2 linked regions of the Homo sapiens genome follow. The protein of the gene in region 2 interacts with the protein of the main gene of each other region in a pairwise test. Each region holds a gene or a part of one and is shown on either strand. Other genes may lie near its edges.

What was found.
Region 1: the proteins of TRAPPC11 (region 2) and TMEM132D interact in a two-hybrid assay, tested with the Homo sapiens proteins (one large-scale study listed by BioGRID).

What each region holds. Positions count from the first base shown.
Region 1 is NC_000012.12:129,075,026-129,078,525, reverse strand, and holds part of TMEM132D (transmembrane protein 132D precursor), read left to right. Parts: intron 1-3,450; exon of another isoform or gene 3,451-3,466; coding exon 3,467-3,500. UniProt on the Homo sapiens protein: Regulate neuronals morphology via inhibition of the WAVE regulatory complex (WCR), a complex that controls F-actin cytoskeletal dynamics.
Region 2 is NC_000004.12:183,686,793-183,690,292, reverse strand, and holds part of TRAPPC11 (trafficking protein particle complex subunit 11), read right to left. Parts: intron 1-3,500. UniProt on the Homo sapiens protein: Involved in endoplasmic reticulum to Golgi apparatus trafficking at a very early stage.

The DNA of each region.
Region 1 (3,500 bases), on a different chromosome or scaffold from region 2:
GAGGGCTTGAGACACACTTCAGCAGGGTCCCTCACCAAGTGGATCACACACCAGGCAGGCACCACGCCAGGCGGGTCGCACAATAGAGTGGGATCATATATCGGGCGTTTGTTTCTCCATCTGCAAAGGGCTCTTCTGAAGCAGGTGACTCCTCTGCCTCATGTTTCCCAGCTCCCCCATGCAGAGATGAAAAAAATAAATACATATATACATAAGGATTGCAACATGTGAAAAATGAGAAGCCATTAAGGGGCAGGAGCCCTGGAGGAAAGGCCCACCCCTCATCCACCATAGTGCAAGTGCATGCAGGTGGTCACCTGTGCTCTCCACACGCTTCCTGCTTCCATGAGGGCATGAGGGCACGTGCAGGCTCAGAGCAGGTGCACAGCCTGATGCCAAGGTCCTGCTGGAGCGGAGGGTGACAGACCTGCTGAGTGGGGAGCCTGTGGCGGGAGATCGCTTCCAGACCATTCATTGTTCAGCTCAAGGCAGAAACAGAGAATTCATGGAGATGTCAGTCACAATTTTCTTTTACTTTATTTGGAACCAGTGTGAGCTAATAGAGTGTGTTTTGTGTGTTGTGTGCATATGTATATGTGTGTTGTGTGTCTATGTGTTGTGTACATATATGTTGTTTTTGTGTGTCTGTGTATGCATGTGTGTGTCTTGTGTCAGTATTTTGTGTTGCTTGTTTTGTGTTGTGTGTTGCATGTGTGCTTGTGTTGTATAGGCACCTGTATGCATGTATATATGTGTGTTGTGAATGTATCGTGTGTTGTATGTATGCATTGCATGTGTCTATTTGTTGTTTGTATGTGTGCATATGTGTGTGTGTTGTGGGTCTGTGTCATATATGTTTTTGCTTTATGTGTGTCCGTATGCATGTGTGTCTTGTGTATTTTCTGTTGTGTGTATGCTTGTGTTGTATAGGTGCCTGTGTGCATGTATATGTGTATGTGTGTTGTGTGTATGTGTGTGATGCATGTGTTTGTATGTGGATACAATGGCTTACAAAGGGGACTGTTATAGGGGACCTTTGAATGTAGTAAGTTCTCCCTCATTAGAGGTGGATAAACATTATTTCTTAGAACATAGGAATTTGGGTGAAGCTTGCTTAATAACAAAACATGGTGGTTGCAGGTCATTAGTTCTTTTGCCCCATGAAAAGGGATCATCCTCATGTGGGGCAGCTGGAATCCCTCCGGCCCATATGGGACATTGTTCTGACTGCTTCCCTTCTGGATCAGGAGCCTTTTCTGCGCACTCTTCCTCGGCAGGGTGAGGTACCAGGCCTTCCCTGCCTTCATGCACCAGCTGCGGCTGTGGCCATGTTCAGAGGAGGCAGGAGTGCCACACTGGACTTGCTAAGGGGCACAAAGAGCCTTCCCATTTTCCCAGCCTGCACCTGTCACATAATGCTCCCCTCTCAGGCATGAGCTAATCTCCTAGTCCTTATACTACAGTCTTTGTTTGCAGAGTTTTGGGTTAGAAAACACTTGAAAGTGGTTGATCCCAATAACAGAATCGAATTCTTGGCCAAAGCAAACCTCCTTTTCTCAAGGAAGGATGCCAGCCGAGAGGCAAGTTACAGATAGCAATGAAGAAATAACCTGAGGCTTTTCTCTGTCTTTGTGGGTGATAACATCAGCGGACCACCAGCTAGGCGTTAAGGAAGGGATAAGATGCAGCTAGAAGAAGGCCAGAAGGCTAATCCGTTCCTGACATGCAGAGCTAAACACGCTACCCTGAGATTTGCTCCATGGTTGGTTTGCAGGGCTCTTACTCCCTGCCTGCAACTTGGCTCTGACAGTGGTAGTTTCAAGAACTCCGTTGTGCGTTTGAATGCTCTGCTCAGATTTCATGGCCGATTGAGAGAACCTGGTAAGTCAGTGTCATGTCCAGTAGCTTTTGCACTGTGCCTTGGCAAGGTTATCCGCTTAGCAGGTAGTCCAAGCCAGTGTCTAACAGAATAAGTATTTCTTGGCTGAGCTGAAGGAAAGAGCAGAGGCCACCAGCCACATTTGAGGAGACTTTCTTCTTACTTCCAAAGACTAAACAACAACTGTGTAAAATTACTTCTGTCATGGTCAGGGGCCAGTAGGTCATAAGAGAAAAAAAAATCCACTCAAGCAAAAGCTTAAATAACAAAGGATGTGTTATGAGGATTATAGGGATCTCACAGAACCCAGCTGCAAGACCTTGGAGGAAAGGGAAGGTCAGCACTTTCATGCCCACTCTCTCTCTCACCTGTGTTTTTATTTTGGTCTAATTCATTATTGTCTTCCTATGGATAAATGCCATGCCCAAACATTTGCTTATACATAGTCCATCAGAGGGCTTCATTCCCCAATTTTATATGTGCCCCCACTACACATCTTCCCAAGCATAACTTTGTCAGTCTTGTCTTTCTGGTTTCAAGTTCGAGAGAGAGAGAGTAATGCTGGCTGGCTCAGCATTGCTGAGATTGATGGCTCTAATGGCAGCAGCTGTCTCATTTCAATCAGCTGTTGCTGTGGCCCAGCGGGCAGGGTCATGGGCCACCTAGTGCTGTTCATCATCTCGGGCTTGGGGCGGAGCAGGTTCTCTGAGAGGGAGGGAGGGAGGGAGGAAGCAATGGATCTGCCACTGCTGTCAAGCATAATGTCATCTTCACTAAAATTAAAGGCTGGCATGAAATTGGAGGTTATCTCCAATGATCTGCCTGGTCAAACTATTTGCAAAGAAAGTTGGTCTAAATCAACAAAGTGAAAACAAGCTCTGGCTGCTTTTTGGTCTTCCAGTTTCCTCCAGTTGGGTTGGGTGGAGGAAGAGATGAAGACTCTCCAATCAAGATGCTTCTCCCTCTCCTGCTGTCAGGCTTAACTCCTCCCTCCAAGCCAAGACTATGGCCTGAGGCCAGGACAGATCCACTCCTGCAGACCCAGAAAAGGCAGGGCTGGCAAAACCACAGCCTGCAGCCCTGCAGTGGGACCTCATCTAGATCAGAGGCTTTTATCTGTATTGCCAGTAATCAGTGGAGACTCAGTATTACAACTTAAAAATAATGTAATAAATATTTTTCATTTGAATGTGTAACACTTGTAAATGATTCCACTAACCAGTAATTTCCTTTGTCGTGCAATTTATTATTGTTCAGAAGTTGATTCTGAACAGCCCAAGGGCCCATCTTCCTTTTATAACAACACCTACAGGAGAAAAAAAAAAAAAGCAAATCTTCTTACGGATTGTTTAATACTGGCCCTGTTTTGTCATTTTGTTGTTGTTTTATTTTGCTTTTTTGCATCTTTGTGAGAATTCATTTTCTTTTATACTCTTGGTACTTCTTATCGCTTATTTCTACACTGTTTGAAAGGTTTGTCTTTGTTCTTGTAGCAATAGTTTTGCCGTTGTGTGTCTACTGTACTAAGACTTGGGGCTCAATGAGCTTTTTGGCCCATTTGATTAACTTACATATTTTTCTCCATAGGAAGCAGCCATCAGTTGCTGGGTCCAGTTCAGTG
Region 2 (3,500 bases):
ATTATACTTTCCCGCCAATTTTCATTTCTATTCCATGCTTATAAAAACTACTCTACTTTTTTTTTTCTTATGGTTTATATTGTGAATTTCTTTTCTTTTAAGACGGAGTCTCACTCCATCGCCCACTAGAAATGCAATTTCAGCTCACTACAACCTCCGCCTCTCAGGTTCAAGCAATTCTCATGCCTCAGCCTCCCAAGTAGCTGAGACTACAGGCACCCGCCACCACGCTCAGCTAATTTTTGGGTTTTTAGTAGAGATGGGGTTTCACCATGTTGGCCAGGCTGGTCTTGAACTCCTGACCTCCAGTGATCCGCCCACCTTGGCCTCCCAAAGTGCTGGGATTACAGGCGTGAGCCACTGCGCCCCGCCTGTATCTTAAATTTCAAATAAGATATATTCAGAATATAATCTAAATTTTAAAACTAATTGCTTTATATTCCATTTTAGCGTTATTAGTTTTTAATTATAGTAGCTTATATTTTTTGTTGAAAAAAAAAAGGAAAGAAAAGAAATGAAATAGTAGGCTATTAAGGGAAAAGTAAAATAAGAGTCCCCATACTTCACTTGAGCCCAGGAGTTTGAGGCTGAGATGAGTTATGATCACATCACTGCACTCCAGCCTGGGCAACAAAGTATCTCTTTAAAAAAAAAAAAAAAAGAGTCCTTGTGTTGACCCTCTAATTTCATAATGAACAAAACAAACAAACAAAAAAAACCCCTGCCCTTCTGCCCTTGTGGAGCTTAGATTCCAGTAAGGAAAAACAGGTAATTTACCAAATAATCACACAGACAACGGTGAAACCACAGTGTGATTAGTACTACCAAGGCTATGAGAGCCTGGCTAAGTGATTCAGTCATGTAAGTCAGGGGAGGCTTCCCTGAAGAAGTGATGCTTTTAAGTGAGAAAAGGCAAGAAGGAATGAAGTAGTCGGAGAGGAGGGCAAACCAATTCAAGCAGAGGAAAGGGCATGTACAAAACCTCCTGTCCTTCATTCATCCTATCCCCACTTTTCAGCCGCTATATGCACTTGGCAATCCAGATTTATCTATTTTTAAATGCCTCTTATATCCCTGAATCTCCATTCCCAACACCAGCAACTCAATTCCGATACTTGTACTTTTGTACATGGATTAATATAAAGAGCCTCTAATTGGCTTCCATGATATTATTTCTATTTTGCTACTAGAATAAAGTTTCTTAAAACTTTAAGAATAAATTGCATGCTCTTGCTTTAAAATTCTCAAACTGGGCCAGGCATGATGGCTCACACCTGTAATCCCAGCACTTTGGGAGGCTGAGGTGGGTGGGCTCCTTGAGCCCAGCAGTTCAAGACCAGCCTGAGCAACACTCCATCTCTATAAAAAAATACAAAAATTAGCTGGGCATGGTGGCATGTGCCTGTAGTCCCAGCTACTCAGAGGAGGCTGAGGTGGGAGGATCACTTGAGCCTGGGAGACTAAGGCTGCAGTAACTCAAGATGGTGCCACTGCACTCCAGCCTGGGAGATAGAGTGCAGCCTTGTCTCAAAACACACACAAACACACACACACACACGCACACACACTAAAATAAAATTCTCAAACGGATTAGAGGAAATCCCTGGGCAAGGGTCTGAAGTTGAATAGAACATACTGATCTTCAGGTGACCCAGCTTCATCTAATCATTTCTATTACAGAGATATTTCTCTTTTCTTATGAATCAAATCCTAATAAAACAGATAACGTTTCTTTATCACCATCCAATAAATAGAACACAGACAAAAGAACAAATAAATCTTCAAAGACATCTGTTTACTAGCCTATCCCCGCTTAACTCTTCCAGGTTCCTTTAAGCCACCTGGCCTTATTTCCCACCACCCAGCATTATAAACCCTCTGTTCTAGTGAGGTGTGACTTTCCCAGAAACACAGATTGTGCGCTTCTGTTTCCATGCAGTGTTTTCTCATTGCCAAACATGTTCTCCCCCTCCATCTTTTCGACCTATCGTAATTTCATCTTCATTCTTGGAACTCCCTCCCTTTTTTCTGGCATGCCTACTACAGCTGTCCCTCTTTCTAGCCTACACTACGTAATTTAGTCTTCATTACCTATTTGGGCAATCTTTGATTCTGTCCTGGCCCTTGTCCCCAAAATGCCTAAATTTTAATGAGGTCGACATATGCTATACTCAGATTCAGCATGTTAAGAATATCGTAACTCTCAATAAATGCTTGTTGGTGAAAGACTCACTATACTTTCTGGGTAATCAAAAGATGATTATCTACTAAGTGAGTTTATAATAGAGTTGTAATGAAGTACTTGACTATATACTATATAATGCTTCAAATATATTCAAATGCAGGAAATATGATCCCAATTCTGCAAGAAAAAAAGTTGCTTATATATTCATGTGCAGAAAATGTCTAGGTTATTCAAGAAGTTAACGTAGAGGGTGTGTGGGAGAATGGAGAAGAAAGAAGACACACATTTACTTTTCACATTATATCCATCTATTCCATTTCAATTTTTTAAATGTCAAACATAAATTAGTTCCATAATCATAAACTAATAACATTAACTAATAATGTTGAAGTAAAATATAAACCAAATGTTTTTTTAATTCTATTCATTCTGAATATACCTTATTTGGAATTCAAGTATACATTATAAAAAAAATTTAAGGCCAGATGTGATGCCTCACACCTGTAATCCTAGCACTTTGGGAGGCTGAGGTTGGTGGATCACTGGAGCCCAGGAGTTCAAGACCAGCTTGGGCAACACAGCAAAACCCTGTCTCTACAAAAAATACAAAAGTTAGCCAGACGTGGTGGCAGGTGCCTGTAGTTCCAGCTACTTAGGGGGCTAAGGTGGGAGTCCAAAAGGTTGAGGCTACAGTGAGCTATGATTGCACCAATGCACTCTAGCCTGGGCAACAGAGCGAGACCCCGTCTCAAAAAAGACAGAAAAAAAAAGTATATATATACTATATGTGTACATATATATATATATACACACACACACAGAGAATTCTTAAGACTTTATAAACATGGAGTGAAAACAAAAATTGGAGTAAGCAAAGTGTAAACTTGAATTGCTAGAAGTTTAGAAACATATATATATATATATTTTTTGACACAGATCTTGCTCTGTCACCAGGCTGGAGTGCAGTGGCACGATCTCAGCTCACTGCAACCTCCATCTCCCGAGTTCAAGTGATTCTCCTGCCTCAGCCTCCCAAGTAGCTGGGACTACAGGCACGTGCCACCACACCCAGCAGATTTTTTTGTATTTTTAGTAGAGACGGGGTTTCACCATGTTGGCCAGGCTGGTCTCGATCTCTTGACCTTGTGATCTGCCTGCCTCGGCCTCCCAAAGTGCTGAGATTACAGGCGTGAGCCACTGTGCCCGGCCCTGGAGATATATTTTTGAATAGACCTTACCAAAGTTCATTTGTTACTATGAAACCATTAAGACATAAAATTCACTAAGCTCATTTTATCTAGTTTAACATAAGCTA